Homo sapiens: one gene and its partners. The protein of the gene in region 4 purifies or fractionates together with the protein of the main gene of each other region. This does not show direct contact. Each region holds a gene or a part of one and is shown on either strand. Other genes may lie near its edges. The genes, in order: GCA, TRAPPC10, TRAPPC6B, STMN4, ANKRD13A and TRAPPC9.

Region 1 (5,186 bases), on a different chromosome or scaffold from region 4:
TTTTAATTATGATTTTTTTCAAAAGATGATCTTCCATACATGCATACATTCTGAATTTCTTCTGTTGTGTTTAAATTTATTTCTTTGTTAGTACTTACCAGTTAGATTGTATTCTTTTATAACTTGGCAGGATATCTAATTGGGAGCCAAAGCTTGCCTCAGTCAGTCAAAAGTCTGTACAAAATAGGTTTTCAGTGGTAGAAACCATGTTTTTGTCTTTTTTTTCTTAGATAGTGCAGAACACATAGCAGGTGCCAAAATACATCAGGATGGAAAGGTTGCATTTTAGAGTAATTTAGAAGTATATAACTTTATTCTTATACCTCTGATAAGCTGATGTTCCTAGTGTACTTTTAAAATGGATAACATACAATGGTGTTTAATTTGCTTAAACTTAATGCAGTTTTAAGTAGCTTTATGAATTGTTCTTATGCTTGTGATTTACACTCTTCTAAACAAAATCTATTTGTATGAAAATTAATTTTTTGGAAGTTAAAATCTGAACCCAATGGAAGTGGGCTTATCTCAAATTGCAATTTAAATAAGTCAAATTAGTGATTTGTTTGGTTTTGTTTTATAAATAGACATTTTAATTTAGTAGTAGGGACAGTCCAGCCCATATAAACATATGTAGTTCAATTATAGATCCTTAATACCTAATGGATTAAACCTGGACCTTAATTCAGCCTAATGTTGGGAAATTAATGTAATCTTTGGCAGAAAAGAAAACCTCCAGAGTTCCCGTTAGGCAGTGGAATGTAAAAAGGGTATTCTGGATTATCCAAATTTAAGATCTTCATGTATATTTTAAAATATTCAAATTATTTTTCTGAGAATACTATGGGAAAATCTAGGAATTTTATCAGTACCACATTTAGCTCATAACTCTCTAATATGAAGTTCAAAATATATTTGCATATAATTACATTAGTTTGCATGTTTTACTGCTTCTTTCAATTTATACCTTTCCCACATTACATTCTATTATAGCTGCATGTATAATTTTCTCCTGTTACATTTATTTTGGTTGTTTTCACCTTTGAATTGATTAGTGTCATTTGTTCAAGTCTACAAATCCAGTAATGTATGGGCAATAATACTGGGCTACCATTCTTCTTAGTAAAATGTATACATCTCATTAAATGCATAGGACCATCTATAAGGGTACAGCAAGTAGAATATATTAATTTATGTTTTTATTCAGTTGTATTCGTTTTAAATTTTAGATTTTATGTATTTTTTAAAATAGGAGTAATCAAACAATAATACATGTATAGAATTTAAAATTAATTTAAACATACTGGGAGTGAATGATCAAAAACTTCTTTCTCATTGATATAAGTAAAAATCAAAGATTTTGGACATCACAGGACTACTGAACAAAGAACCAAGGAAATCAGTGAAATAGCGAGAAAGCTGTTATTATTATTACAGTGTATGAAGAAACACTAAGAATTCCAGGACAAAAAAGAATGTTTTTCTGTTTTTTTCCCCTGTAGAGTAATCATGTTGATCCTCAAATTTCTCTTAGTTATAAAAGATACTTGCAAGTAATATGTTCAGTGGGAAATATCATTTGAATAACAAAGATCATTAGTAATCTTTGCATTTATATTCTTTAAGAACTATACAAAGTTACATACTTGAAATATTGAAGCATTAAAACCCATGAAATTAGACATTATTTCAAAATAACAATATATGATAAATTCATAAGAAGAGAATTATTTTCTTTTCCTTAGCTTTGACTTTATTACAAAGTTAGAATTGTGATATTTATATACCGATTAACAGGATTAACAGTGAAGCCTTTGTCTGATGAATTTCAATATTCATGTGTTTTGTTTCTAATTATATTTTTGTGGAATGAATTTTGAAAGTTATTTTATGACTTAATGAGAAAGCAATCTTGCAGTGTTCTTATGTTATTTACATTTAGAAGTTTTAATTTATCTCTTTTTTAGGTTATAGGTTGAGTCCTCAAACATTAACTACTATTGTTAAACGTTATAGCAAGAATGGCAGAATTTTCTTTGATGATTATGTTGCTTGCTGTGTGAAGCTTCGAGCATTGACAGGTATTGACTATTTAAAACTAAGTGCACAGTGTTATGTAGCTATTTTTCTTGAATAATGTGTCTCATTTCCTCCAGCAAGTTTATAATAATATGTGTTTTCTCCCTTTATTCACTGTTAAATCTAATTAGTTTAAAGGCTTCAAATATTAAGGAATATAAATGATAAAAACGTTATGTTATTTTTGGAAGTTTTTCTCATATCTCTGTTGCCAGGGCTATTCAATCACTTAATATTTAATTGAATATGAAATTATTCTTTTTGTGTACCTGGGTGCACTAAATATTTGAAACTATGTATTTTAAATTACAATAAAAAAGTAATTTCTTTGTTTAAAGATTTCTTTAGGAAAAGAGACCACTTGCAACAAGGGTCTGCGAATTTCATATATGACGATGTGAGTATCCTGCTTTTGATATTTATACTGCATTCTAGATAGTTCTCAGTTAGTAAAAAAATTTAAGTGATCCCAAGTACCAGTACTGGAAATAATATATTTGGTATGCCACATACTTTTCCATATTTTTCAGTGTAACACAAATATAAGATTAATATTGGTATAGGTGCCAAACAATTTGACTTCATGTTAAATTGTAAATATGCTTTTCAATTTTTATGACAGGTTTTTTGAATTAAAAAAAAAATGATCTTTCAAATCACTTTTAAGGGCCAAAACCACCATTATTTTTAAAAAGGGTAGTTTACTGTAGTGATATTTTTTCTCAGGGAGGGAAAAATTTTAATCCGTGACGGATTATGAAGCTGTTCATTTCTCATTTCAAATGGTTACTATTAACCTGATATTCAGGGTTTTTTAAAATTCAAGGTATAAGACAGTTATATTTACCTGTGCTTTAATGTTTCAGGGTTTTTGTTTTGTTTTTCTTATATTTACTGATGGAAGTTATGGGGTCAACATTACTGATATTTATTGGCTTGAATTATAAGCCTTGGAAACAAACTTTTCTCTCTTAAGAAAATGCTCTTATGGAATATAATTAGTCAAAAATAATTAAAAACCATTTTATTCTTAATAGATAATAATTTCACTTATGTATTAGTTTTTGCAGGGCACTATGGCAATTTGAATGCTTAGAATTTTAAACCTGAAGAGACACTGTGAATTCTTTTGTTTGGAAGAAGTGAACTGGACTACTTTAAAACTTTTAAGGGTTTTCTATGTTCTTCCTACCTGTTAAACCTCTTCCCTTTCTGTGTGTTTTTATTTTAGCAGATAGTTCAAAGCAATAAAAGATTTCTTTTTTAATTTGAGGTATTACTGCTTTTGGAAAAGTTATTTTATAAATATGTGCATATTGTCATAAAATATTGTATGATTAATTGATTTAAATAATGCTTAGCCTTAATTTTAGATAATGTAAATTTAGAGGAATGTACTTTACAAGATAGATTGTATAAGAAGCCAAATAATGAAAGCCTAGAAAAAACTAATTTATACTTATCTGAAGGTTACAAATTAGACTTTTAAATTTTCTTTGTAGTTGGTGGTGTTTGAGGGTTGGCTAGAAATGAAAGCCTGGATTTTGTGCCATGTTTGTAATATAGTTTGTTCCTTGATCAAATAATCAGAGAAAAGAAACTTAAAGATCTTTGTCTGTGAAGAAGAAAATTATCTCCCTAGTTCAATCTGTAGTGAAATAAGACTACAGAAGGCATTGTTTTTTCCTTTTTTATTTTTTGTATTATATATTTTTCTTAAATATGTTTTATTGTCTTCTCTAAGCAAAAAGTTCTTAATAAACATAGTATTTCTCTCTGCGTCCTATTTCATTAGTGAAGACATAGTTCACCTAAAATGGCATCCTGCTCTGAATCTAGACTTTTTAGAAATGGCATATGTTTTTGATGATATGTCAACATTCAAAATTGTCCTAATTAAATTGTTGTTTAAATGTAATGTCAACTCTTTATAAACTTAAAAATAAACAAGTAATTAACCACTCTAATTGTTCAGAAATTTTACATTTGACTTATTTGACAACATTAACATTAGTGGTGGCTTTGCCATTAAAAACCCAGTAAGTATTTTGAGTGCATCTATGTGATGTGGTGTTTTGAGCATAGTAGGCACCACAGCAACTTTTCTGCGTGGTACTAAAACTGCCGAAAATGCGACGTAGAATCACCAGATCTTTAGTGTTTAATATCCCTGGTATAAGATGTTATAATTAATGTAATTTCTTTCTTGGCAAACACCTCATGTCTGTCTTAGTGAAGATTTAATAAACCACTTATTTTTCTTATGCTTTAAATGTGTATTTTCTAACCTAACAGTGAGTGACATAATTTTATGACTGCTGACCAAATTAATTTATAGATTTTATAAAATCCCATGTTTCTTAATGGATGGAGGATAGATGGCAATATCTTGAACAAAATCTTTTATAAACTTACAGAATTTTAAATCAGCCTTCACTTAAAAAAATCCTGGAAAGGAAGTAACGCATAGTCACTTGACACTGATAATTTTATATAATTTGCTGTCAAATTCACTTGGTCAGTTTTATAAAAATGTGTGAATAGGTAATACACATAATTTTGTTCTCTGGCTTTTTTATGAACATATATTTGATAATGTGAGAGGACATTAACTGAGCTGGGAAATTAAAGAAACAGAATTCTAATTAGAAGTGTTGTAGGAAAAAGCAAATGTGAAAACACTAAGTGTCGTTCACATCGAATGGTGATAATGTCGCTCAGCAACCTGTAATCTTAACATCCAGGTTATACAGATGGTCGTTACTGAACTATTCTGCGGTCGATTATGATTATCTCTCTTACTTGGAGGCTCACAGTTGAGGTAAAACTTTTAAAATGACAAATGGTATTATTCATGTAAGCTTCTGCCAGGTGACACTCTATATTAGAACTCTTTAACACAATTTTCATTTAAAAATGTTCTTATGACTTTTGGTCATAGAAGGTCTATGAAGGAGCTTCCATGGCCAAACATATTTAGAAACTCTCACTTTCTAAAGCTTGACAAGGTATATTAGCATCTGAAACCCCAAGGTTAATAAAATCAGTCATGTTTAATTTTATTTGACCCAGTTTTTTCCAAACTTTTTGACCACAGAACCCCTTTCTCT
Region 2 (5,186 bases), on a different chromosome or scaffold from region 4:
TTTTTTTCTTAAGTGCTGATGAATCTCTGAAATAATCAAGTATGATACAGCTTGGGCAACATAGGGAATTCCTATCTCTACAAAAATGAAAATAAAAAAGTTAGCCAGGTGTGGTGGTGTGCGCTTGTACTCCCAGCTACTTGGGAGGCCGAGGCGGGAGGATCACTTGGACCTGGGACGTCAAGGCTGCAGTGATCTGTGATTGTACCTCACACTGCAACCTGGGTGACAGAGCAAGACCTGGTCTCAGAAAAAAAAATAAAGGCTGGGCGCAGTGACTCATGGCCATAATCCCAGCACTTTGGGAGGCCAAGGTGGGTGGATCATGAGGTCAAGAGATTGAGACCACCCTGGCCAACATGGTGAAACCCCGTCTCTACTAAAAATACAAAAATTAGCTGGGCGTGGTGGCTCGCGTCTGTAGTCCCAGCTACTCGGGAGGTTGAGGCAGGAGAATTGCTTGAATCTGGGAGGCGGAGGTTGCAGTGAGCCGAGATCATGCCACTGCACTCCAGCCTGGCGTGAGACTCCGTCTCAAAAAAAAAAAAAAAAAAGTATGTCGGGCATAACACATGAACCAGTCTTTCCTTAGAGAGTTTTTGCTGTGTGCTTCCACCAGAGGCCTGCCAACTGACAGTGTGATTGTGTGGCTCACTCTGGCTGAGTTGGTTATCTTTTAATGGAAATACAAATAACTGACTTAAGGATTTTTTTGTCGTAGGAAAGTTTGTTGCCAGTTGACAGAGTGTCTTCCCTGGAGTCGCATGCCTTAGTGTGTAAGTGTGTGGTCTCCAAAGGTATTGCACACTGATCTCCAAGTACTGACCCTCCCACCCCCGTGCTCCACTCTAGACCTGGTGGCTTTAGATCTGGAGTTAGAGACCAGCAACGGCAGAAGATTACAGGGTCTTTTTTTTTTAAGACATGGTCTCACTGTGTCGCCCAGACTGGAGTGCAGTGGCATGATCTCGGCTCACTGCAGCCTTGACCTCCTGGGGTCAGGTGATTCTCCCACCTCAATCTCCCGAGTAGCTGCTTGTGTGCCACCATGCCCAGTTAATTTTTTGTATTTTCAGTAGAGATGGGGTTTCGCCATGTTGCCCAGGCACGTTTTGAACTCCTGGATTCAAGCAATCCGCCCTCTTTGGCCTCCCAAAGTGCTGGGATTACAGGCATAAGCCACTGTGCCCAGACAGCTGCAGGGTCTTAAACAGTCAAAACATTCCCACCTCAGTGCCTGCCTCTGTGGTGGGTTGCCTCAGAGCTTCCTGTGGCTTCCTGTCCTGTGTCTCACCTTCTTTCTTCCTCAAATCTTTCCTCTATCTGCTCTTAATGTCAAATATAGTCACAGTATTTTGGCCTTAGAGAATATTTGTTTTTAAATTAAAAATTGATAACCTTGGAGTCATTTATGACTTCTTTTTTCTCTCACAACTGACATTATCTTTGAAATATATCTAGAATCCAGCTATATATAGGGCCTGCCTGGATAATCTGGGATAATCACATCTTGAGCTCCTGAACTTAATTAAGTCTACAAAGACCCCTTTCCCAAATAAGGTGACATTCACAGGTTTTGAGGGTTAGGATGTTGTGGGGCACCATGCCACCTGCCGCACCACTGTCTGTGTTAGCTACCAAGCGCGCAGTGGCCGGCATTCATCAAGCGTCTTTGGTTTTAGACAGCTGCGTCTGTCTTTGGAGGTTTGTCCTTCGTGTACTCCTGACCGAGGGAATGTTATCTTGACATTTGGGCTTCTGGGTTCTAGATGTGGTTACAAGGTGGGGTGATCCCTTCTTAGGAAAAGTCCAGCCTCTTCTGTGCTCTCTCCCTTATGTGGCTTTTTGGACATTTGTTACATGGTGTTTAATTTCTGAATATTATTTTAGGCCCCTGTTTGCAATTTTTTTTTTTTAACAGTGACCAGGGACCATTCCATTGTATGTTTGGACATTTTTCTTTTCTTTTCTTTTTTTTTTTTTGAGACAGAGTCTCGCTCTATTGCCCAGGCTGGAGTGCAGTGGCGTGATCTCGGCTTACTGCAAGCTCCGACTCCGCCTCCTGGGTTCACGCTATTCTCCTGCCTCAGCCTCCCGAGTAGCTGGGACTACAGGCGCCCACCACCACACCTGGCTAATTTTTTTGTATTTTTAGTAAGGATGGAGTTCACCGTGTTAGCCAGGATGGTCTCGATCTCCTGACCTTGTGATCTGCCCGCCTCGGCCTCTCAAAGTGCTGGATTACAGGCATGAGCCACCGCGCCTGGCCCATTTTTCTTATTTTTAACTGAGATCTGTTAGCAGTTTGAAGCGATTGTATACATTTCAGAGTTAGCTGGGCATGGTGGTGCGTGCTTCTAGTCCTAGCTACTTGGGAGACAGGCCAGAGGATCGCTTGAGCCCAGGAATTTGAGGCTGCGGTGAGCCATGTTTGTGCCACTTCACTCCAGTCTGGGCGACAGAGTGAGACCCTGTCTCAAAAAACAAAAAACAAAAAAAAACAATTTCAGGGTTGAAATTTTTAGCAGAGCCTTGGAACTGACAACCACCTGTTTGGATAGTAACTTTAACTCAATCTGTAGCTTGCCATTTGTGGGCACTGTCAGTTCACCTAGACCAGTCAGCAAGCTCTAAACATCCAGGTTAATGAGAAGGGCCGTCAGAAGTCATTTTGAAGTTGAGGAGCTGAGGGCTGGTTTTGCTGTGACTGGCCATGATCAGTGTAACTGTTTAGTAGCACAGCTCGGACCAATATTAGCATGTCTGATGACTCCTGCTTTACCAAGTACTTAGGGAAGGCAGACACCATCTGTTCACATGGAAGCAGGGAGTTTGTCCCTAAAATTATGCTTCTGAGAAAGCCTTTGCCATATAATTAAATAAAAATGTCACTTTAGCATTCTAAGAATTGAGTAAGTAAGCTATACACTAGAAATTTTTAGTATAGTCTTATTCCAAAATTAAATTCCTATTCTGAGAACTTGATACCCAGCACTGTCTTTGCTTCTCCTGTAGTCTGTTCTGTCCTTTGGGGATCCTGGGTTGTCTAGTGTGGAGTATGGAGGAGTTGGGCTGTTTTCATCAGTGAGCAAACATTTACGGAGGACCTATTACATGCCAGTTACTGCTGAAGGGGCTTGGGTTATGTCAGAGAGCAAAGATCCCAACCCTTTGAGAGTTTACATTCTGTCAAGAAGAGATAGACAATAGACAAATAATGTTAGGTGACAAGTGCTATGGAAAAAAGAAAAAGAGAAGGATAAGGGAAATGGAAGAACTGTAACATTTCACATATTTTATTATAAAAGTGCAATATGTATCAAAGTAGACAGAATATTATAAAGAGACCCTACAAACCTTTCACCCAACTACAGCAATTAGGTGAACTGCCCAATCTTGCTTCTCTATACCCCTCATTCTCCCCAGTCTTATATTATTTTGAAGCAAATCTCAGACATATAATTTATCCACGAATGGATGTTATGGACTGAACATTTGTGTCCCTCCCTACACACCGAAGCCCTGACTCCCAGTGTGCTAAGAATAGGAGATGGGCCTTTGAGAAGTACCAGGGCTAGATGAGGTCAGGAGGGTGGGCCCTTTATTATTGGATTAGATGAGGAAGAGTGAGAGGACACCTCCCCCTTGAAACGAGGAAAGGCCACCTGAGGATAACAGCAAGGAAGTGGCTGTCTGCAGTCTGTAACACAGGCCTCACCAGAAACCTAATCTACTGACACCTTGATCTCGGGCTTCTTGACCTACAGAGCTATGAGAAAATACATTGCGATTTTTTTTTTCTTTCTTAGGGTCTTTTCAGAGAGAAAACAAAAAACTGTTTTCTAAGCCACCCAGTCTATGGCATTTTTTTTTCTTTTTAAAAATTTCTTTCTTTTTTTTTTTCTTTCATGGTATTTTTTAATTACACCTAAAACGTTTCTTTCTTTCTTTTGTTTTTGTTTTTGTTTTTGAGATGGAGTTTCGCTCTTGTTGCCCAAGCTGGAGTGCAGTGGCACAATCTCAGCTCACTGCAACCTCCGCCTCTCGGGTTCAAGCAACTCTTCTGCCTCAGCTTCCCAAGTAGCTGGGATTACAGGCACATGGCACCATGCCTGGCTAAATTTTTTTTTTTTTTTTTTTTTTTTGAGATGGAATTTCACTCTTGTTGCCCATGCTGGAGTGCAGTGGTGCGATCTTGGCTCACTGCAACCTCCGCCTCCCAGGTTCAAGCGATTCTCCTGCCTCAGCCTCCCGAGTAGCTGGGATTACAGGCGTGTGCCACCATGCCCAGCTAATTTTTTTTTTTTTTTTTTTTTTTTTACAAAGACGGGGTTTGTTAGTAGAGATGGGGTTTCTCCATGTTGGTCAGGCTTATCTCGAACTCCCGACCTCAGGTGATCCGCCCACCTTTGCCTCCCAAAGTGCTGGGATTACATGTGTGAGCCACCATGCCTGGGCCTAAAACGTTTCTTAATACCAAATATTCAGTGTTTAAGTTTCCAGTGTGTCTTAAATGTCCATTTTTAAAACTGTTTGAATTAGTATCCAAATACAGTTTTTAGATAAATCCTTTAAGTCTCTTAAAATCTTCATGTTCCCTCTGTCTCTTTTTTTTTCTTTATAACTTGATGAACCTGGCTCATTTGTCTTGAAAAGGTCCCACTGCCTAGACTTTGGTAGTTGGAGCTGGAGGCTGGGTCAGCTTCAGGCTGGATTTTTTGTCGGCAGGACTTTATCATGGGTGTTGCTGTTCTTCCAGCAGGTGCGTGATGTCCGATTACCTCTCCTTTTGGAAATTGGCAGCCATTTATTTTCACATCACTAATTCCCTAAAGGTTGCAAAATGGTGATATTCTCATTTCCCTATGTCTTTTTTTTTTTTTTTTTTTTTTTTTGAGACAGAGTCTTGCTCTGTCGCCCATGCTGGAGTGCAGTGGCTCCATCTTGGCTCACTGCAAGTTCCACCTCCCGGGTTCACGCCATTCCCCTGCCTCAGCCTCCCGAGTAGCTGGGACTACAGGTGCCCGCCACCACGCCGGGCTAATTTTTTGTATTTTTAGTAGAGATGGGGTTTCACCGTGTTAGCCAGGATGGTCTCGATCTCCTGACCTCGTCGTGATCCTCCCGCCTCAGCCTCCCAAAGTGCTGGGATTACAGATGTGAGCCACCGCGCCCGGCCTATGTAA
Region 3 (5,186 bases), on a different chromosome or scaffold from region 4:
GTTCTGATAGCTTCCACCAGCTGAACCTAAGCTCCATTGTCCTCTGAGTTAATCTGTGTAAAGGCGACAGTGGTGCGGGTCTTCTTGTGGATTAGACATCCCAGTCTTGCCTTCCCCTTGATAATGCGGTAAGGGACCCCCATTTTATGACACAAGGCAGGCAGGAAGACAGCCACCTCGATGGGATCCACATAGTGTGCAGTCACCACCAGCTGAGCCTTCTTGTTCTCCTCCAAGGTGGAGATGGTGTTAACTCCTGCTCGGAGGACAAGTGGTCTCTTAGTGGGGACATCCCCTTTGCCTGCAGCTTTCTTTTCAGCCCGGGCCAATAGCCTCTGCTTATTTTCTTGCTTTGTCTTTGGTCTGTACTTGTGGGCCAGCTTAAGCAGCTAAGTAGCTATTTGGCGGTGCAGGGCCTGGGTGAACTGGTTAATTGTAGGAGGCACTTTCAGCTGCTTACAGAGGATGGCTTTGTGCCACTGCAACCTGATATAGCGGGGCCATTTCACAAAGTGAGTGAGGTCCATATTGGGTGGATGTCCTGTCCAATGCCAGAATTCTTAGGCCTTTTCTCAAACAGGGGATTCACCACTTTCTTTCTTTCTTTTTTTTTTTTTTTTTTTTGAGATGGAGTCTTGCTGTGTTGCCCAGGCTAGAGTGCAATGGTGCGATCTCGGCTCACCACAACCTCCGCCTCCTGGGTTCAAGCCATTCTGCCTCAGGCTCCCAGGTAGCTGGGACTACAGGCATGTGCCACCACTCCGGCTAATTTTTGTATTTTTAGTAGAGGTGGGGTTTCACCATGCTGGCCAGGCTGGTCTCGAACTCCTGACCTCAAGTGATCCGCTTGTCTCGGCCTCCCAATGTGCTGGGAGTACAGACGTGAGCCACCACGCCCAACCAGGATTCACCACTTTCTTGGCCTCCTGTTTCTTCATGACACCAAGGGCCAGAGCCACCTCCTTCCTCTTGGCCTTTCCTTTTGGCATCTTGGGTGGCAGGAAGAGATTCTTTATAGTCATTTCTAAAGTCTAATTTATAGAGCATTTTACTCTTAAATAACTCCTGGATTATTACTGCTGTCATATTTTCTACTCTTAAAAGATTTTCTTACTACAAAATTAATAGATTACATAGAAAACTATGTATTTATTAAAATTTTAAAAGGGAGACAGAGTCTCGCTTTGTTGCCCAGACTAGTCTTGAGCTCCTGGACTCAAGTAATTCTTTGGCCTCAGCCTCTTGCATAGCTGGGATTATAGGCATGCACCACCACTCCCAGCTTCATTAGATTTTATTTTATGAACTTCAAGGAAATACTTAGAGTAGATTTGGAATTTTGATTAAGTAAAAAATTAAATGTATCTGGTACTCTCAATAGGATAATTCATTTATTTATTTATTTTTAATTAGAGACAGTGTCTCACTATGTTTTCCAGACTGGTCTCAAACTCTTGGGCTCAATGGATCCTCCCGCCTTGGCCTCCCAGAGTTCTGGGATTACAGGTGTGAGCCACTGTGCCTGGCCTGGAATTCATTTTGTACCAACTTTAGCTTGGAATTACTGGAAATGCTAATAGGAAGAAATGACTATGATTTTTTTACTCTCTAGACATGATTTACTAATATATATCAGCTGGCTGGACATGGTGGCTCATGCTTAGAATTGCAGCATTTTGGGAGGCTGAGGCAGAAGGATTGCTTGAGCTCAGGAGTTGGAGACCAGCCTGAGCAACATACTTAGAACCTATTTCTACAAAAAACTTGAAAAAAATTTCACCAGGCATATTGGTATGTGCCTGAGGTTTCAGCTACATGGGAGGAGTTCAAGGATACAGTGAAATACTACACTTTTGCCTGGATAACAGCAAAATTCTGTCTCTTAAAAAAATAAAGCTGGGCGCGGTGGCTCACCCCTGTAATCCCAGCACTTTGGGAGGCCGAGGTGGGCAGATCACCTGAGGTCAGGAGTTCGAGACCAGCCTGGCCAACGTGGTGAAACCCTGTCTCTACTAAAAATACAAAAATTAGCCAGGCATATTGGCGCACGCTTATAGTCCCAGCCACTCAGGAGGCTGAGGAAGGAGAATTGCTTGAACCCGGGAGGCAGAGGTTGCAGTGAGCCTAGATCACACCACTGCACTCCAGCCTGGGCGACAGAGCAAGACTCTGTCTCAAATAAACAAATAAATCCGGGTGCGGTGGCTCACGCCTATAATCCCAGCACTTCAGGAGGCCAAGGCGGGTGGATCACCTGAGGTTGGGAGTTCAAGACCAGCCCTGCCAACATGGAGAAACCCCGTCTCTACTAAAAATACAAAATTAGCTGGGCGTAGTGGCGCATGCCTGTAATCCCAGCTACTTGGGAGGCTGAGGCAGGAGAATCACTTGAACCCAGGAGGCGGAGGTTGTGGTGAGCTGAGATCGAGCCATTGCACTCCAGCCTGGGCAACAAGAGTGAAACTCTGTCTCAAAAAAATAAATAAATAAAAATAAAAATTAGGTCGGGTGTGGTGATCATACATGTAATTTCAGCACTTTGGGAGGCTGAGGCAGGAGGATTACTTGAGCCCTGGAGTTCCAGACCAGCCTAGGCAACATAGGGAGACCCCCTTTCTACAAAAAATTAATAAAACTAGCCGGGTGTGGTGGCATGTGTCTGTGGTCCCAGCTACTCGGAAGGCTGAGGCAAGAGAATTGCTAAACACCCAGGTGTTTGAGGGTGCAGTGAGCTGTGATTGCACCACCACACTCCAGCCTAGACAACAGAGTGAGAGCTCATGTCTAAATAAATAACTATACAAACAAACAGCTTATTTCATGTGGACATGTATTAATGATTCCATCGTACTAGACTATGAGTTTTTAAGGATAGGGACTATGTCTCAGACAGTGTTTTTATCTTCAGTGTATAAAACCGTTCGGTATACATTAGTGTTGTGAAAATACTGAACTCGCAACTCTTCAGCTTGAACATTGCAAAACTCCTTCATTTAAACAAAATTTGACCAGGCTGGGCACGTGGGCTTATGCCTGTAATCCCAGCACTTCGGGAGGTCAAGGTGGGCAGATTGCTTGAGCCCAGGAGTTTGAGACCAGCCTGGGCAACATGGCGAAACCCCATCTGTACAAGAAATATAAAAATTAGCAGGGCATGGTGATGCACGCCTGTAGTCCCAGCTACTTGGGAGCCTGCGGTGGGAGGATTGATTGAGTCTGGGAGTTGGAGGCTGCAGTGAGGCGTAATTGTGCCACTGCATTCTACCCTGGGCGACAGAGGAGACCCCGTCTCAAAGAACAGAAAAAGAAAACTTGGCCAATGGGAAGGAGACTTTTAATAACTTTAAAAAACACTTAAATTGTTTCATAAGAATAAAATAATTTTAAGGACTGCTAGGTACATTGACTTTGGATTTTTTTTCTATTTTTGGAACAGGGCATCTATGTACTTCAGGACAACAAATTTCGCCTGCTTACTCAGATGTCTGCAGGAAAACAGTATTTAGAACATGCATCTAAGGTATTTAATGGAATAGAAGTTGGGGTTTTTGTTAATAGTAGGACTACAGGGAAAAGTACAGTGCTAATCATAACAAACTATTGAATTAAAAATATGTTTTAAGGTGTTCTTTTTTGTTTAAAGAGTTTTCTATGAAATGAGAGACATGTTACAATAACACTAAACTGTAGCTAAATAGTCATAGAGTGACCAATTAAAGAAACACTGGCCGGGCGCTATGGCTCACGCCTGTAATCCCAGCACTTTGGGAGGCCAAGGCAGGTGGATTACCTGAGGTCAAGAGTTCAAGACCAGCTTGGCCAGCATGGGGAAACCCTTTCTCTACTAAAAATATGAAAAATAGCTGGACGTTCTGGCGAGCGCCTGCAATCCCAGCTATTCGGGAGGCTGAGGCAGGAGAATCACTTGAACCCGGGAGGCAGAAGTTGCAGTGAGCTGAGATCGTGCTATCATTGCACTCCAGCCTGGGGTATAAGAGCAAAACTCCATCTCAAAAAAAAAAAAAAAGAAAAAAAAGAAACACTATAACTAAATGACAGTGAAATGTAGATGTATGGTAGATCACTTTTTTTTTTTTTTTAAGACAAGGTCTTGCTCTGTCATCTAGGCTGGAGTGTAGTGGTACAATCATGGCCTATCTTGACCTTGACCCCCCCGGGCTCAAGTGATCCTCCCACTTCAGTCACCCAAGGAGGTAGGACTGCAGGTGTGGGCCACCATGCCTGGCTAATTTTTAAAAAAATTTTTTAGAGATGGGATCCCACGATGTTGCCCAGGCTCGTCTTGAACTCCTGGGCTCAAGTGATCACCTCACCTCGGCCTCCCAGTGTGTTGGGATTACAGGTGTGAGCCACTGCATCCGGCCTGATTGCCTATTTTCTATATTTTTGGGGTATCCAGGCTCTAATTACATTTTTATGGTTAATGTGTATATTTTCTCTCTTTTTTTTTTTTTTCGGACAGAGTGTGAGACTCACTGCAACCTCTGCCTCCTGGGTTCAAGTGATTCTCCTGCCTCAGCCTCCTGAGTAGCTGGGATTACAGGTGTGCGCCACCATGCCTGGCTAATTTTTTGTATCTTTAGTAGAGACAGGGTTTCACCATGTTGGCGAGGCTAGTCTCAAACTCCTGACCTCGTGATCCACCCACCTCAGCCTCCCAAAGTGCTCGGATTACAGACGTGATTACAAAAGCCACCCAAAATGCTGGGATTACAGCCTCCCAAAGTGCTGGGATTACAGACGTGATTACAAAAGCCACCCAAAATGCTGGGATTACAGCCTCCCAAAGTGCTGGGATTATAGGCCATGCCTGGCATATTTTCTCTTTTTTACTAACTTCTTAGTTTAATATTTCTGGTTCTCACTTAACTTTTTGGGATCTTGGTTTCTTCAGCTGTGAAAAGAGTAAGTTGGACCAATTCAGTGATTTCTAACTATTTTGAGTTATGGACATCTTTGAGAACTGGAACACCTTTCCCCATAAATACGCACATATACATGGTTTTTATTTTCATAGGGGTCACAAATTCCCCGATTAAGAACTCTTGGGATGAACAATCTCTAAGGCCTCTTCCAGCTTAAAATTTCATGACTCAGATCTAGTTACTTATTAGTGCCCATTTATGTATATTATTTATAAGATAATATTTTATATTATTCGTAGA
Region 4 (5,186 bases):
ATATGTATGCCCTGGCCAGGCACGGTGGCTCATGCCTGTCATTCTAGCACTTTGGGAGACTGAGGCCAAAGGATCACTTAAGCACAGGAGCTTGAGGCTAACCTGGGCAACACAGTGAGACCCCATCTCTACCTTAAAAAATTTTTTTTGATGGGGTTGTTTGTTTTTTTCTTGTAAATTTGTTTGAGTTCATTGTAGATTCTGGATATTAGCCCTTTGTGGCGATTCCTCAGGGATCTATAACTGGAAATACCATTTGACCCAGCCATCCCATTACTGGGTATATACCCAAAGGACTATAAATCATGCTGCTATAAAGACACATGGACACGTATGTTTATTGCGGCATTATTCACGATAGCAAAGACTTGGAACCAACCCAAATGTCCAACAATGATAGACTGGATTAAGAAAATGTGGCACATATACACCATGGAATACTATGCAGCCATAAAAAATGATGAGTTCGTGTCCTTTGTAGGGACATGGATGAAATTGGAAATCATCATTCTCAGTAAACTATCACAAGGACAAAAAACCAAACACTGCATATTCTCACTCATAGGTGGGAATTGAACAACGAGATCACATGGACACAGGAAGGGGAATATCACACTCTGGGGACTGTTGTGGAATGGGGGAAGGGGGGAGGGATAGCATTGGGAGATATACCTAATGCTAGATGACGAGTTAGTGGGTGCAGCACACCAGCATGGCACATGTATACATATGTAACTAACCTGCACAATGTGCACACGTACCCTAAAACTTAAAGTATAATAATAAAAAAAAAAAGAAAAAAAAAGATGGCAAAAAAGAAATTTTTTTTAAATGTAGATTCCCTTGCTTTTGTAAAAGCCCTGGTTTCTGGCTTATGTAAAAATAGTAGACAGAGGGGAAAAAACCTAGAAGAAAATGCCAATAGCATAAAGTAGCAAGACTACAAGGATTTATTTTCTTTTTTTCTGTTACATAGAATTTCCAAAATATAATGTGAATATGTTTGTAATTAAAGCATTATTTATAAGATGCACATATGCCTATAGATGTAATCATAAAGCAATATTCAATCACATTGTTGTTATTGGGAGTAAGATTAAAAGGGCTTGCCCTGTATATTGATGGCTTCATGTGCTTTTAACCCAGGACCTCACAGAACTCCTGGGTCACATGCCTTGCACACTCTCCAGCAGCCCAGAATGGAAGTCCATGCCCCTGAACTTGACTTCTGTGATGCTGATTCTTCTGCATATGTATATATATAATATATATACACGTATATACGTATATATATAATATTATATGTATATATATATACGTATATACGTGTATATATATATATTTATTTTTTGAGATGAAGTCTCACTCTTTCACCCAGGCTGAAGTGCAGTGGCATGATCTCAGCTCACTGCAACCTCCACTTCCTGTGTTCAAGTGATTCTCCTGCCACAGCCTCCCGAGTAGCTGGGACTGAGACTACAGGCATGCACCACCACGCTGGGCTAATTTTTGTATTTTTAGTAGAGATGGGGTTTCACCATGTTGGCCAGGCTGGTCTCGAACTCCTGACCTCATGATTTGCCTGCCTCAGCCTCCCAAAGTGTTGGGATTACAGGCATGAGCCATCGCACTCAGCCGCTTCTGCATATATTAAATTGGAAATAAAAATTGCCCAGAAAATCCCATCATTGTGGATTATTTGGGGCTGTCACTTTTCCAGTTTAATTTTCCTTCTCTGACTTGCCTCTTAACATAGCTGTTAGTGCTAAGAAGGACTCCTCAGATTCAGGCCTTCAGAGTTCTGCTTTTGTCATAGGTGCTTATTTCCTAGAAGCCTAAGCCTGTTGGGTACCCTCTGGGAGTTGCCCTTGTCCAGGTCCCCATCATCTCTTCCTCTAGATGCTGTTGGAAGCAAGAGCCTAAGAGGTGATTAAACAATGCCAGTTTCCCCAGACCCAGTGAATCACACACTGTTCTGTTTTGCCCAGTTTCCCTCTGTAGGTCTCGCTGGTTCCTTCTTGGTCTGCACTCTAATTCCCACTCCTTCTCCCTTTATGGCATGGTCCACATTATCGCGGAAGACCATGCTGAGGCCCGCAGAGCATCTGCAGAGCCTCCAAAGGCTCCAATGGCTCTAGATACCCATCCAGGGACCTGTTTTACTTTTCCACCAACAAAAACTCCTGTGGTTATTTTAGGATCTAGCAGAGGGCTTGGCACATAATTAAATACTCAGTAAATATTGTAGAAAGAATGAAAACCACATTTATGAAAAAATAATTTATCTCCTTTTGATTTTAAACCCAAAGAAGACACATGGCTGCCAATCAGAGCCTTTTGATCAGCATGAAATAACCAGGGCCACTGTTCTGAGCTGACATGATTCATCCCAAAGCAAATAAATGTGGCATTTAGATAGCTTATGCAGCTAATTTTGGGTAAATATATGACCTCAACTGGATTTTGAAGAAGATTGGCAATAGGGCACAGACTTAAAGAACCACCTTCCTGTACTGCTTGTGGTTAGAGGACCTCAGGCAGAATTCATTGCCCCCACAACCATGAGGTATTCATCCTGATTCTTGGCCAGAGTTTCTAGATTTGTCTTCCGAAACCCTTGCCAGGTACAACTCTGTTCAAGCCACTGGGACATGCATTATCTGCTCATCCCTCAAAAATAGTCCAGATGGAATTTGACACATCCTGCAAGCATTCTTGGGGCATTTCTTACAGTGACCAATAAAATGCTTGTTCATTCTGTCGTATGGGCAGTCAGAGGCACTAAGAGGTCAGGCATACACCCAGTAGGTGGCCACGTGTCATCTGAGAACTTGGTGCTTTTCTGTTTGCCCCCTGGACATCAGCTGAATTACGGAAAGCCTGGAAGTGTGGGTTGCATGAAAGTGCCCTGCTGGGGTCTCCCTTCTGTGTATCCATCTTCTCATTCAGAGCTGCTCTGGTGACCATGTGGGCTGTCCCCTCTCATCCAGGATGGTGTTTGGGGACAGAGAAGGAGCAAGTATAAAGGAGAAGGGCATTGACACTGGAATCCATCCAATCTCTGCCAGGAGTTCTCTGCGTGACCTCAGAATCTTTGGTCCCCAAGTAGGAGGCTATTGGCATTTTGGAAGGGACAGTTGTTTATCGTGTGGGACTGATGTATACAATGCAAGACATTTAGACTCGCCAGCCTCTGCCCACTAAATGCCTGTAGCATCCTCAGTTTCATGACCATTGAAAAGTCCCATGTAGTTCCCGGGAGTGAGACTGCACTGAGTCGAGAACCATGGGCTTGTGATTGCCTGTTCTCTCCATCTCTGACATTCAAATGTTCTGGGTGAAATCGAGGGCTCTGATCTCTTCACTTTAACCACCTTTTTCTCCCCACTGTCCCACCGTGAGATCCCTCCTCAGTCAACAGCCTACAACTTCACTCTCAGCCACGTCTGCCTCCAATCAAAACTTACTCATTCTGTGTTTCCTTACGGCTGGCTCTGTGCTTGGGGGGGGTTATCACCCACTAATTTATTTCTTAACAATTATGCTAATGGTTCAAGCCATCAACAAAAAGCTCTGGTTCCTTGCTTTTCTGTACAGACTCTTAGATGCTGGTGCTGGGGGAAATGTATGGATCAGTTTGTAAATGGAAAAATAGTGCTGGGTGAGATGTGAAAACTTCAGAGTGGAACTCAATCCAGCAGGTCCAACCCACACTTTGTACCCAGACTGCTATTTGGCTTCCAGCCTATCCCTCCTAATTTTTCCCCAAACGAATGTTGCCAGATGAATCTTTTTACACTCGCAGCAGAACCTAAAGACAGAGAGGCTTTCCAATGAAACACATGAGGACTCAAATCCCAGCTCTGCCCCTACCTACCTGTGTGACGACGGTATAACTTACTTAACTGCTGAGATTCAATGTCCTCATTCTCAAAGAACCTAATAGAAAAATGAGATAACAGCCGTGCTTTTCCTGCCCAAGAATGGTAGTTGTTATTATTGCTATTATTATCAGCATCACTGTTCTCTTCTCCCCTCATTCAAAAGATGTCAGTGGCTTCCTACTGGGTGGGAGATAAAGCACAAAGTCCTTCACTGGTCCAGAGGTCTCTGCAATTTTCCAGTTCCTATTCTAGCATTCTGTCCCACTGCACCCTGCATGCAGCCCAGTGGGCCTCCTGTGTTCCTGAGTAAACCCAGTCCACATCCCTGGCACACAGTCAGGTTCACAGTCATTGCAAGGTGATAGGCACTGCAGAACCTCAATTGCATAGTAACCTCATCACAGTCTGGGATGAGGCCACACTCGAATCTTTGCCATCTGAAGATCTAGCAGAGGGCTTGGCACAGAATTATATACTAAATAAATAAATAAATAAATAAATAGAGTCCTCTCTCTACCTGCTCCACTGGATCAATCCCTGCCAGCACAGGGGCTCAGCTGCCCAGGGAGGCCTTGGCTCTTGACCAACCAGTTTGTGTCCATCAGAAGTGCTTGACAGTGACCACCAGGCAGGAGCTGGAGGGCCTGCCATCCTGAGCTCTAGCTCTGGTTCTGGATATTGGCTGAATGACTGCCACATTGACCTTCTGTCTGGGGCTCCTTTGATCTTTGTTGCTGCTGGATGCAATGAATTTCCTGGTCTTCCTTAGGGGCAATAGAAGGGCTAGGATTGGCTCTCACCTAACAGAAAACACATAAGGAACCTCTGAGGGATGGGGATGGAGGTTTGCTTCTGCACTGGGTTTTGCCTTCCATTGCTCTGCTGGCTGACGTCTTGGATAGAATCTCCCATTGAGGATTTGCACTCCTTGCCTCATGCTTCCTATGGCCTCTATTGTCTCTTCATCTTCATCATGCCACCTGAATCCCTGGCACTCTGTGTGCTCTGACCTTGGGCATAACACCTTTACTGTCCTTCTTTGACAGTTCCAGGAGAGGTTTGGTGGCCCTCGCTCCCTTGCAGGCTGTATATTGCTGTGGCATGATAACATGACCATGGCCATTTAACAAACCCCACAAGACAACCTAGCATCACACAACCAGGCCAGGTGCTGGGGAGGGACATGTGACTGGCCCCACTGGGCGCAGATGCCACAGGTTATTAGGGATAAAGTTGGGTTTCCTGCCATGGCTGGCGCCACCCAGTGGCAAAGACTCCTTTCATCTCTGTGCCCTCTGCTTC
Region 5 (5,186 bases), on a different chromosome or scaffold from region 4:
CATCAAATTGGAATTCCCACCTGGATTTCCTGTCAAAATAGGTACTGCTAAATAAACTTCAGCAACACTTGGAGGTTCTGCCCATGTTTGTGGGTGGCAGCATGTGGGTGGCAGGATGCTTCAGGGAATTGGAGTGCTTTAGGTCAAAGTAGCTTATAGACATAACAGAGGAGGTCAGAGTTCTCCTGTGGTTTGATTTAAAGAAGTGTTATGATTAGTGGTTCATTTTGTGTATCAAAGTCAAGAGATCTCCAACCATCATTTCTATTTGCAAATGGTGCTGACAGATATAAAAAGGCATAAAAACATGACACAGTCATTGTTTTAATGTCAAACCTTAATTCAGTGAGACTTCAAATTAGATAATTATTTGAGGAAGACAGTTGACACCAAGATCCTTTGATATGTAAATATGATCTACGTCCCAAGCTAGTATGCATAATGCTATATATGTATATATCATACATACTACTCATGAAGAGTATTAATTTTGGATAGTTGTATGTTCATGATACTTGAACCCTGGCTTGATCACTTACTCACTGTGATCTAGGAGAAAATACATAACTCATTTTCTCTTTTTTTTTTTTGAGATGGAGTCTCGCTCTGTTGCCCAGGCTGGAATGAAGTGGCATGATCTTGGCTCACTGCAACCTCTGCCTCCTGGGTTCAAGCGATTTTCCTGCCTCAGCCTCCTAAGTAGCTGGGATTATAGGCATGCATCACCACGCCCAGCTAATTTTTGTATTTTTAGTAGAGATGGGGTTTTATCATGTTGGTTAGGCTGGTCTCGAACTCCTGACCTCAGGTGATCAGCTCGCCTTGGCCTCCCAAAGTGCTGGGATTACAGGTGTAAGCCACCGCGCCTGACCGAAAATACACAACTCTCAATCTCAGTTTTCCCGTCTGTGTATTGGGAAGGGTTGTTATGAGGCTTAAATAAAATTATACTTATCAAAGTACTTGGCATAGTAAGCACTTAGTAAATGATAACTATTATTGTTATTCTCAGTAAAGTTTACTTATAAAAGTTTTTATTTTGTTTGTTAGAAATTCCCTTGTTTCATGTCTTAAATGCACGGATTACATTTGGAAATGTTAATGGCTGTAGCACTGCCGAAGAATCTGTATCTCAAAATGTGGAAGGGACCCAGGCTGATTCAGGTAAAAAAATAAATAAATACAAAGTTTAGTTTTGTTATTTAAAAAAAAATTTATGGCCGGACGTGGTGGCTTATGCCTGTAATCCCAGCACTTTGGGAGGCCGAGGTGGGTGGATCACCTGAGGTCGGGAGTTTGAGACCAGCCTGACCAACATGGAGAAACCCTGTCTCTACTAATAATACAAAAATTAGCCGGGTGTGGTGGCGCATGCCTGTAATCCCAGCTACTCGAGAGGCTGAGGCAGGAGAATCGCTTGAACTGGGGGAGAGGCGGGGGGATGGAGGTTGCTGTGAGCCGAGATTGTACCATTGCACTCCAGCCTGGGCAACAAGAGCAAAACTACATCTCAAAAAAAAAAAATTATAATTCAGTCATCATATTCATAATTCACTCTGAAGCTGGAATATCTGAGGGAGTAGATGTCTGTGTTGGATGAAAGAAAATTTCAGATTTAGTTTAGATTAAGCAAAAAAAAACTTGTAGAATATATATGATCCTAGTTATATTAAAAAGAAAGGATGTTCTTAAAAATCAGCTTTATTGAGGTGTAATGTACATACAATAAAATGCTCTCATTTTAAGTGTGATGGTTCAGTGCATTTTTTTTTTTTTTCTCAGAGTCTCACTCTGTCACCTAGGCTGGCATGCAGTGGCACAATCTCTGCTCACTGCAGCCTCTGCCTCCCAGGCTCAAGCGATTTTCTTGCCTAGTCTCCCAAGTAGCTGGGAATACAGGTGCGTGCCACCATGCCTGGCTGATTTTTGTATTTTTATTAGAGACTGGGTTTCACCATGTTGGCTAGGCTGGTCTGGAACTCCTGACCTCAAGTGATCCACCCAGCTCGGCCTCCCAAAGTGCTAGTGTGAGCCACCATACCCAGCCACATTTTGACAAATGTATGCATCTGTGTAACCACCACCATAGTCAAGGTAGACAGCATTTCCATATGCCCCCAAATTTCCTTACACTCCTTTGCCATCAATACAATTCATGATTTTAGATGCAATTGTAAATGGACTTATTTTCTTAATTTCATTTCCAGTTACTAGTATATAGAAATATAATTGAGTTTTGTATTTTGACCTTGAATCGTTTTTAAAAATTTTTTATCTTTTTTTTTTCTTACACAATTGCATGGCCAGGATTGACCTTGTTTATCTTGTAACATGGCTGAATTTACTTGTCTTACACTTTTTTGTAGATTTCTTAGAATTTCTTACATATATGGTCATGTTGTCTATTAATAAAGAAAATTTTACTTTTTCCTTTCTAATCTTTAAGCTTTTCATTTCTTTTTCTTGACTTACTGGACTGGCTAGGACATCTAGTACAATGTTGAGTAAGAGTGGTAGGAATGGCTGTCCTTGTCTTGTTCCTGGTTCTAGGGGAGGAAGGATTGTTGTGCCATTAGGTATGATGTTAGCTGTGTAGGTTTTTTATAAATGTCCCTTATTAGTTGGAGGACATTATTCTCTTATATTTCTAGTTTGCTGAGAGTTATTACCATTTTTAAGTATTGATTTTTGTGAGATGTGTTTTCTGCAACTATCATGATGGTCCTATGTTTCTCCCCTGTAGTCTACCAGTAGGAGGAATTAAAAGATAGCATTTTAATGTATATAAATTAAGACTTCAAATAAAAACAATTGAACTCGACAATAATATACACCTTTACATTCCCATGTAGCAACAAAGTTGGGTGAGATGTGTTCATGAGGTTGTGCAGCTAAGGAACACTCGTGCACTCTTGGCTGGAAGAGGAGATTGGTATAGTTCCTTGAATAAAACATTCGGCATTACTGTATAAACTGAAGATGTGGATGACCTAGCAATTCCTAGATGTGTACCCTAAAGAAAGTTATGCACATGAGCATCTGGAGACCCCAGTACTGGGCAGCAGCATCCATTCATAACAGCAGAAACCTGGAAACGACCCAAATGTCCCGAGATGGTAGAATGCGCTATTGTGCTCTATTAATACAACAGAATAACATATAGTATTGAAAATAAAAATTTATAGCTATGTGCGTCAAAACTGTTGAATTTCAAAAGCATAATGTTGAATGAAGAAAATCCAATTTGAAGAATAAATTCCGCATGATTCCATTTATGTCGAGTTCACAAACAGGCTAATACAAACTATTAGGATGATATACATGTGGCAAGCTCCAGAGAAGAGCTAGGCAGTGTAAACAACTATTCTGAATTATGTATTTACCTCTGGAGAGGAAGAAGGGAATATTGTTAACAAGGGATGTGCCCGCAGTATGGTATTGATAGTGTTTTTTTCTTTTTCTTTTTTTTTTTTTTTTTTGAGACAGTCTTACTCTGTCACCCAGGCTGGAGTGCAGTGGTGCGATCTTGGCTCACTGCAAGCTCCGCCTCCCGGGTTCATGCCATTCTCCTGCCTCAGCCTCCCGAGTAGCTGGGACTACAGGTGCCCGCCACCACGCCCGGCTAATTTTTTTTTTTTTTTGTATTTTTAGTAGAGACGGGGTTTCACCATGTTAGCCAAGATGGTCTCGATCTCCTGACCTTGTGATCTGCCTGCCTCAGCCTCCCAAAGTGCTGGGACTACAGGCGTGAGCCACCGCGCCCGGCAGTTATTGATAGTGTTCTGTGTCTTAGGCTAGGTGAAGGGCACACAGGCATTTGTTTAATTATTATCATTTTTAAGTGTTCAGATATTTTATATATACTTTTATATATTTACCATATATCTTCCTGCAAAAGGAAGAAACACATTGGTGTGACTGTGCGTATATGTTTAGGGGGAGAAATCTGCGCTTTTCATTTTATAGTCTTGTGTATTTTTTTATGACTGTGTTCGTTGTTTCCACTAAAATCAAGGAAAAAGAAAAAAGCTGTATTCTGTCACTTTTTTCTGTCATGCTTCCTCAGAATCTCTCATATAATAGTAAGCCTTGATTGTTATAATTTTGAGCCTTTCTTTTTTTTCTAATGTACAACATTTTTGCAAAAAGTTGGAGTGGAAATGTAATGAACTCAGACACTGGACGGTTGCCTTTTGTTTCAGCTTCCCACATCACAAACTTTGAGGTTGATCAATCTGTGTTTGAAATTCCCGAATCTTACTATGTTCAAGACAATGGCAGAAATGTGCATTTGCAAGATGAAGATTACGAGATAATGCAGTTTGCCATCCAGCAAAGTCTGCTGGAGTCCAGCAGGAGCCAGGTGTGTTTATCAGAATACTCTAATGGCAGGGCGTGGGAGGTCTTACCCTCTGGGTTAGCCTCAGTGTTTGGCTAATCTGAAAGATTTATTCTAAATATCAAGTTTGACACATTCATGGTATTTGCATAGGTTATACTTTGTGCATCTGGTCTTCTTACAAAAGCTTGTTATGTAAGAGACCATCTACATAATCCCAGTCAGCACCATTCACAAGATGTCTTCAGGCAGACTTTCCTTTTCCTCATATTCACGCACATAGCTTGTAATTCTGTACTTTTTGAGATGTGCTTCATCATTTTCTAGCACTGAAGCAGTATCATATTTTTCCTGAAGGATTACCTGTGTGTCAGTAGTCTCGGATGAAGGTAGTGAAGTGGATTTGAATCCCACTTCCTCCACAAAGGGTACCATCTCCCTAAACTCTCTCTGGGTCTCTAGTGAAACAGAAAATGAAGGACAGGACAGACCTGTGTAAGCAGTAGGCTTTGTGTGTGTGTGTGTGACTCTATGTTGCCCAAGTCGGAGTGCAGTGGCTGTTCCCCGGCATGATCATATTGCACCCTCAAACTCCTGGGTTCAAGAGATCCTCCCACCTCAGCCTCCCAAGTAGCTGGGACTAAAGTCATGCACCACTGTGCCCAGTAGAACAGTTGCCTTTTATTGTCATATCTGGTTCTCCCTCCATGCCTCACCTACCTGGGACAGTCCAAGGCTTGAGGTCCTCCTCCCCTAACATCAACTCCTTCCATCTCCTTCCTTCTGTGCCTCCTGGCTCTACTAGGGTAGGGTCTGGTCTGCCTCCAGCACCCTCTGGTGTGTCCTG
Region 6 (4,946 bases), about 110 Mb from region 4:
CCATCTCCTCCTCCTCCCCCAGACCCCTCCCAGCCCTCTCCTCCTGTTCCTCCTGTAGCATCTTTGCTGGGCTACGCAGAAGCCCCGGACATGGCAGCCCCACCCCATGCCACGCCCCTTCCTACACTGTTCCCTGGACCATACACAGGCTGAAGCAGAGGAAATCCCAAAGCGGGTGCCCATCCAGCCCAGGTCCCAGGATCCCTGCACCCATTTCTGTGACCTGGGGCCCCAGCCGTGCTGTGCTGCTCATCCCAGCAGAGGGACCTCCCTCGTCCAGCGACTTCCCTTTGGCCATAGAAAGAAATGGTGAGCATGAGACTGGGCACAGCCTGAGGGCGTGGGCAGCTTCCCACCCTCCCTGGGCCTTGGAATCCCCCAAGGCTGGTTTTCTTCCTGGAGACCCCCATGGGCAACTTGGCAGGAGAGATGGTGCCGTAGGAGGTCGTGGATGGTTGATGCCAAGAGAGGCCCTCCACCCGTGGTGGGCAAATGTCCAGGCCTGGGCTGGCAGCCCAGGGCTGTTTCTGGGTGCTCCCTGGCCCCAGGGTGGCGTCTGGTTACCATGGCTGTGTGTGTCCATGTCTGCAAGCAGTTCTTCAATAAATGGCCTGCCTCCCCCTCCCTGCCTCCCTGCATCTGCTAGCCCAGTGCAGTCCGGGGCCCCCACCCAGCCCGTCAGCCCCCACCTCAGGTGGCTGGCTTCCCAGCAGAAGCCGGACCCAGGAAGGGACGGGTTCTGAGTTAGAGATCTCACATAAGCAAACGCTGAGACAGGAATCTGGTCACCAGCAGCTTGTCTGGGAGGTGGAAGGAGGCCTGCAGGGGAGGGAGATCACCAGTGAAGGAGTGTGACTGGGCCCGAGCTGCCGCCACAGTGGGCAGCTGGCCCTGCGTTCCTCAGGGAGGACCGGAGAGAGAAAGCACACGGCTCACATCTCCCTTGAGGGCCAGAGCTGGGGTGTGTCTACACTACCCACAAGAGTCCTGTTCTGGGGGCAGGCTTCTGGCTGTGTTGACCCTTAGCTCCCCAGGTCCCAGGGAGGATAAACAGCCCTTGGTCCCCAGCAGATACCAGGCTCGTCAGGTGCCCGTTGGGCACTGAAACTCCCATGGAGTATTGGGGGACAGAGAGCGGGGCTTCCTAAAGGCCAGTTGGCCAAACAGGCAGAGCCAGGAAGTGGCTGCCCTGGCCTCCCATGGGGCAGAGTCATGTTGGCATCAGGAGGCCTGCGGGGCTGAGGGAACTTCCTGAGGACCTGAAGTCCCAGGCCCAAACCTCCCTCGCTGGGAGCAAGGTCACCCTGTGGCCTCCGGCCTAAGGAACAAATTTTTTGTTCCATCTGTGGCCTCCTGTTGTCGCTCAGTGAATGATGGGAGCACACTGTGATGTGGTGTGGGCTGGGGGCATGTGGGGGCGGGTGTCCAGTGGCCCTCAGTTCCTGGAGCTCATTCAGCATCTGCTCGAGGCTCCCCAGGGAAGGCAGCCCCAGAAGGTCTGGCTGCAGTAGGGGGTGGAGACCCCAGGGCGGTCTCTTCAGCCCTTCCGTTCAGGATGCCTCAGCGTAGTTGAGGGCCTGGCCACCTGGGCTGTTTCTGAATGGAACAAACAGCATCCATGTGTGTCAACCTCAACAGAGCCCAAAAATACGCCATTGAATGAAACAACACATTGCAGGATGATGGGCTCAGCCCAACCTCACTTGTGTAGACAATGTCCCCCCAAATTATAAATTTTCTATGCCTCAGAACGTGTCTATAACAACATGTTTAAAAGGTAGAAAGGATACACATCCCCTGTAGAAGAGTGACCTGAACTGGAGTTGCATTTGACATCTGATGTCAGCATGAGGGTGCTGGTCACCGGGGACTTGAGTACGTACTTTCCTTTCAAAAGCACAATAGATCAAGATACAGGTACACACATAGCTACAGATATAGATCCAGCCACAGATCCAGATTAGATATAGATGCATATAGAAGCCTAGAAAAGCCAATATGGAAAACTCTGGCAGTGTTTGATTCTGAGTGGCAAGCATATTGGTGACTGTAATTATTTCTTGCAGTTTTCTATATTTTTTAGTTTCCCAAACTGCAAAAAATACCCACAACAGTTACCAGAGAAAATGCTGGATGCCACAAGAAGGAAGAACCTCAAGGGGCAGGAGGCAAAGTTGTCTTCTTGGAGGAGGGGGTGTTAGAAATAACCCAGGCCTCCTGGAAAATGACCCAAATACAGCCTGGCTCTGCCAGCCCCAGGCCCTTCCCCACCCCCAGGGCACCCTTTCTGTCCCAGTAGAGAAGGTGACCTGGAGTCAGGCCTTGTGTGTGCTCCAAGCGTTTGGAGCTTTACCGTGGGATGTGGGGAGCCAGGGGTGTTGTTTGCTGGCATTTCTGTGGCTGGGTCTTTCTGGCTGTGGAGCTGTGTTTGTGGGCAGTGGCTGAGATGGAGGACCTGGGGCAGGTGTCTCAGTGACAGCGCAGTATCCTCCAGCCTCTTCCAGGGCCCCACGCTACTGGCTACCTGGCAATACAGTCCAGCAGTTGCTGCTTCTCTAGGCCCCTGGTGCATTCAGAAACCTCCTGAAGGCCAGCGGAGGGTAAGCCAGGAACAGATCATGTCCATTGCACTTCACTAGCTGAGCGAGTTGGTTCTGCCCTTCTGATCCTTGGTCCCTCAGGGCCAGGACAGGCCCGGTGACCCCATAATCATGCAGCCGTCATGCTCCGTCATCTGAAATTCACAAGGAAGGCAAGGATTCAAAGGAAGATGTCTGAGATGCTGAACTCCAGCTCAGCCACTTGTCAACTCCTTGACCTTGGACAAGTTACTTAAATTAAGCCTTGATTTTTTTTCATCTGAATAAATAGAGATAAAAATACTTATTTCATGGACACTTTCATATCAGTTTATTTGATTTAACCTCCTAGATTTTTTTTTAGCACATGATAGCAACTTCTTAATAAATACTGGGTCCCTTCTCCTAGCCTTCCCATTGCTGTTCTTTTTAATTCCATCCACATGTCCTGTGCCTGAAATATCCTGTGCCATGTGCCTGAAATTCCATTCTTCTCCTGGAACCCTTAACAGGCCACATTGCTATGCTCCGTTAGTCCCCTGCATGGCTTAATGTATTAGGTAACATGAAGCATGTAAGGAAGAACTTTCTAACACAGGTGCTGAAATGGGACAGGAAATGCTGATGGAGTGAGCTCTTTGTCAATAGAAGTATTCAAGCAAAGTCCGGACCTGTAGATGGTTTCAAAACATGTAAGCATCATTTGGGGCTTCTGAGCCTACCAGCCAAGAAATTGTCAATGATGACTTGTTAAGAGGTATTTCTGATCCCAGTAAGCAGGGAAGAGAGAGAGATGTATGTGACCACATGGCTCTTGGGGCCTCAAGCAATGTCTTAAGACACAATAAATTTTGATCAAAAAAGGCTTTCAACATGAAGGGCTAGAGATCTAGACTAAGGGTCTAGGCTAAGCCTCTTACTGAAAACACATTTGTAAGTGCATCCATGACCCGGCAGGAGAGTCAGAAATATTCACCCCAGTACCTGTGTGTAGGCAAAGTCCTGGGAGGTGAGCTGTGCACTGATGCCAACTTCCACTTTGAGGGGTTTTGCCAAAGCTGGAGTATCAATGTCTTCAGCCTTCCAAAACTGGAGGAAAGATGACAAAGCTCAGGGCCCACTGGCTGGGGAATCGAATAGATGACTGCTCCGCATCAATTTGAGAGCCTAAAGATTACACCTTTAGTAAAGGATGAACTAAAAATAATCCTCTTCCCACCCTACTAGGAGAGTAGATATAACACTTCCCTGTCTTGACCCTTTGATTCCATCTTGACCCTTTGATTCCATATTGACCCTCCCATGAATTTGCAGTCCCAAATTACACTCCCTAACTGCCTCTTCCAAACCTTAAGTTGTTAATTAATTTCAAAGACAGACAGCACTCCATAATACAGGTACCAGACAAAGAAATAAACACATCCTTTCTGGAGGAATTCATTTTTATCCAAAAACCTGCAAGAGTTTCTATGAGGAAAATGATTATTTCAGAGTTTAAAAACAAAGAAAATCATGAAATACACAAGGAAGCAATGCATCATGAGTGAGAGCTAGGAGAGACAAAATCAGCAAATGCAGGGTTGAAAAGGAATCATACTGGACTTATCAGACATAGACTGTGCTTAACATGTTATAAGAAATGAAAAAGATAAAAATGGGTAAAGAGCTAGAATATCATAAAAGAATCAAGCAGAACTTCTGCAACTGGAAAACAGAATTGATGTGAAATATTTAATGAATAGCTGAAAGAGCAGATTAAACTCCGTTCAAGACAGAACTAGTGAATGAAAGGTAGAATTGAAGATGTTATTAAAAACAGAAACCAGAAAGACCAGAAAATATGAAAGAAATGTAAGGAAACATGGAGGACAAAGTGAGAAACTCTCAAATATATCTAATTGGAGTTCCTGGAGGAAAAGATAAAAAAATGGAGAAAATGCAGTATTGAAGAAACAATGACTGAGAACTCCTTAAAACTCATAAGGATAAAAATCCACAGATTCAAGAAGTCAAAGAAATTCCTAGTAGGATAACATTTAAAATACACAGTTGACACATCATAATACAATTTCAGGAGACCAGATGCAAAGCAAAGGGATGATTTTTAAAAGAGAAAGACAAGAAAAATTACTTCCCTAAGAGTGGCAATTAATTGACAGCTGACTTCTCACCAAGAACAGTGGGGTCCAGGAGTTAGTGAAATAATATCGAGAATGTGCTGAGCAACAAAAATACTTTTCAATGAGTAAAATAATGACATTTTATTATAAACAAAAGCAGAGTTTTCCACCACCAAAACTTCTTTAAAGGGAATTTGAAATACAAGTAGAAGGAAATTGATAGCAGATGGAATGTCAGAGATGCAAG

What was found.
Region 1: the proteins of STMN4 (region 4) and GCA purify together in Homo sapiens (affinity purification with mass spectrometry; one large-scale study listed by BioGRID and IntAct). This does not show direct contact.
Region 2: the proteins of STMN4 (region 4) and TRAPPC10 purify together in Homo sapiens (affinity purification with mass spectrometry; 2 studies listed by BioGRID and IntAct, with this or other methods). This does not show direct contact.
Region 3: the proteins of STMN4 (region 4) and TRAPPC6B purify together in Homo sapiens (affinity purification with mass spectrometry; 2 studies listed by BioGRID and IntAct, with this or other methods). This does not show direct contact.
Region 5: the proteins of STMN4 (region 4) and ANKRD13A purify together in Homo sapiens (affinity purification with mass spectrometry; one large-scale study listed by BioGRID and IntAct). This does not show direct contact.
Region 6: the proteins of STMN4 (region 4) and TRAPPC9 purify together in Homo sapiens (affinity purification with mass spectrometry; 2 studies listed by BioGRID and IntAct, with this or other methods). This does not show direct contact.

What each region holds. Positions count from the first base shown.
Region 1 is NC_000002.12:162,357,080-162,362,265, forward strand, and holds part of GCA (grancalcin), read left to right. Parts: intron 1-1,964; coding exon 1,965-2,078; intron 2,079-2,414; coding exon 2,415-2,473; intron 2,474-3,137; coding exon 3,138-3,164; 3' UTR 3,165-5,186. UniProt on the Homo sapiens protein: Calcium-binding protein that may play a role in the adhesion of neutrophils to fibronectin. May play a role in the formation of focal adhesions.
Region 2 is NC_000021.9:44,018,156-44,023,341, forward strand, and holds part of TRAPPC10 (trafficking protein particle complex subunit 10), read left to right. Parts: intron 1-5,186. UniProt on the Homo sapiens protein: Specific subunit of the TRAPP (transport protein particle) II complex, a highly conserved vesicle tethering complex that functions in late Golgi trafficking as a membrane tether.
Region 3 is NC_000014.9:39,152,545-39,157,730, reverse strand, and holds part of TRAPPC6B (trafficking protein particle complex subunit 6B), read left to right. Parts: exon of another isoform or gene 1-609; intron 610-3,436; coding exon 3,437-3,520; intron 3,521-5,186. UniProt on the Homo sapiens protein: Component of a transport protein particle (TRAPP) complex that may function in specific stages of inter-organelle traffic.
Region 4 is NC_000008.11:27,247,418-27,252,603, reverse strand, and holds part of STMN4 (stathmin-4), read left to right. Parts: intron 1-5,186. UniProt on the Homo sapiens protein: Exhibits microtubule-destabilizing activity.
Region 5 is NC_000012.12:110,029,595-110,034,780, forward strand, and holds part of ANKRD13A (ankyrin repeat domain-containing protein 13A), read left to right. Parts: coding exon 1-41; intron 42-1,050; coding exon 1,051-1,164; intron 1,165-2,852; exon of another isoform or gene 2,853-3,116; intron 3,117-4,202; coding exon 4,203-4,363; intron 4,364-5,186. UniProt on the Homo sapiens protein: Ubiquitin-binding protein that specifically recognizes and binds 'Lys-63'-linked ubiquitin. Does not bind 'Lys-48'-linked ubiquitin.
Region 6 is NC_000008.11:139,726,021-139,730,966, reverse strand, and holds the end of TRAPPC9 (trafficking protein particle complex subunit 9), read left to right. Parts: 3' UTR 1-3,242; downstream 3,243-4,946. UniProt on the Homo sapiens protein: Functions as an activator of NF-kappa-B through increased phosphorylation of the IKK complex. May function in neuronal cells differentiation. May play a role in vesicular transport from endoplasmic reticulum to Golgi.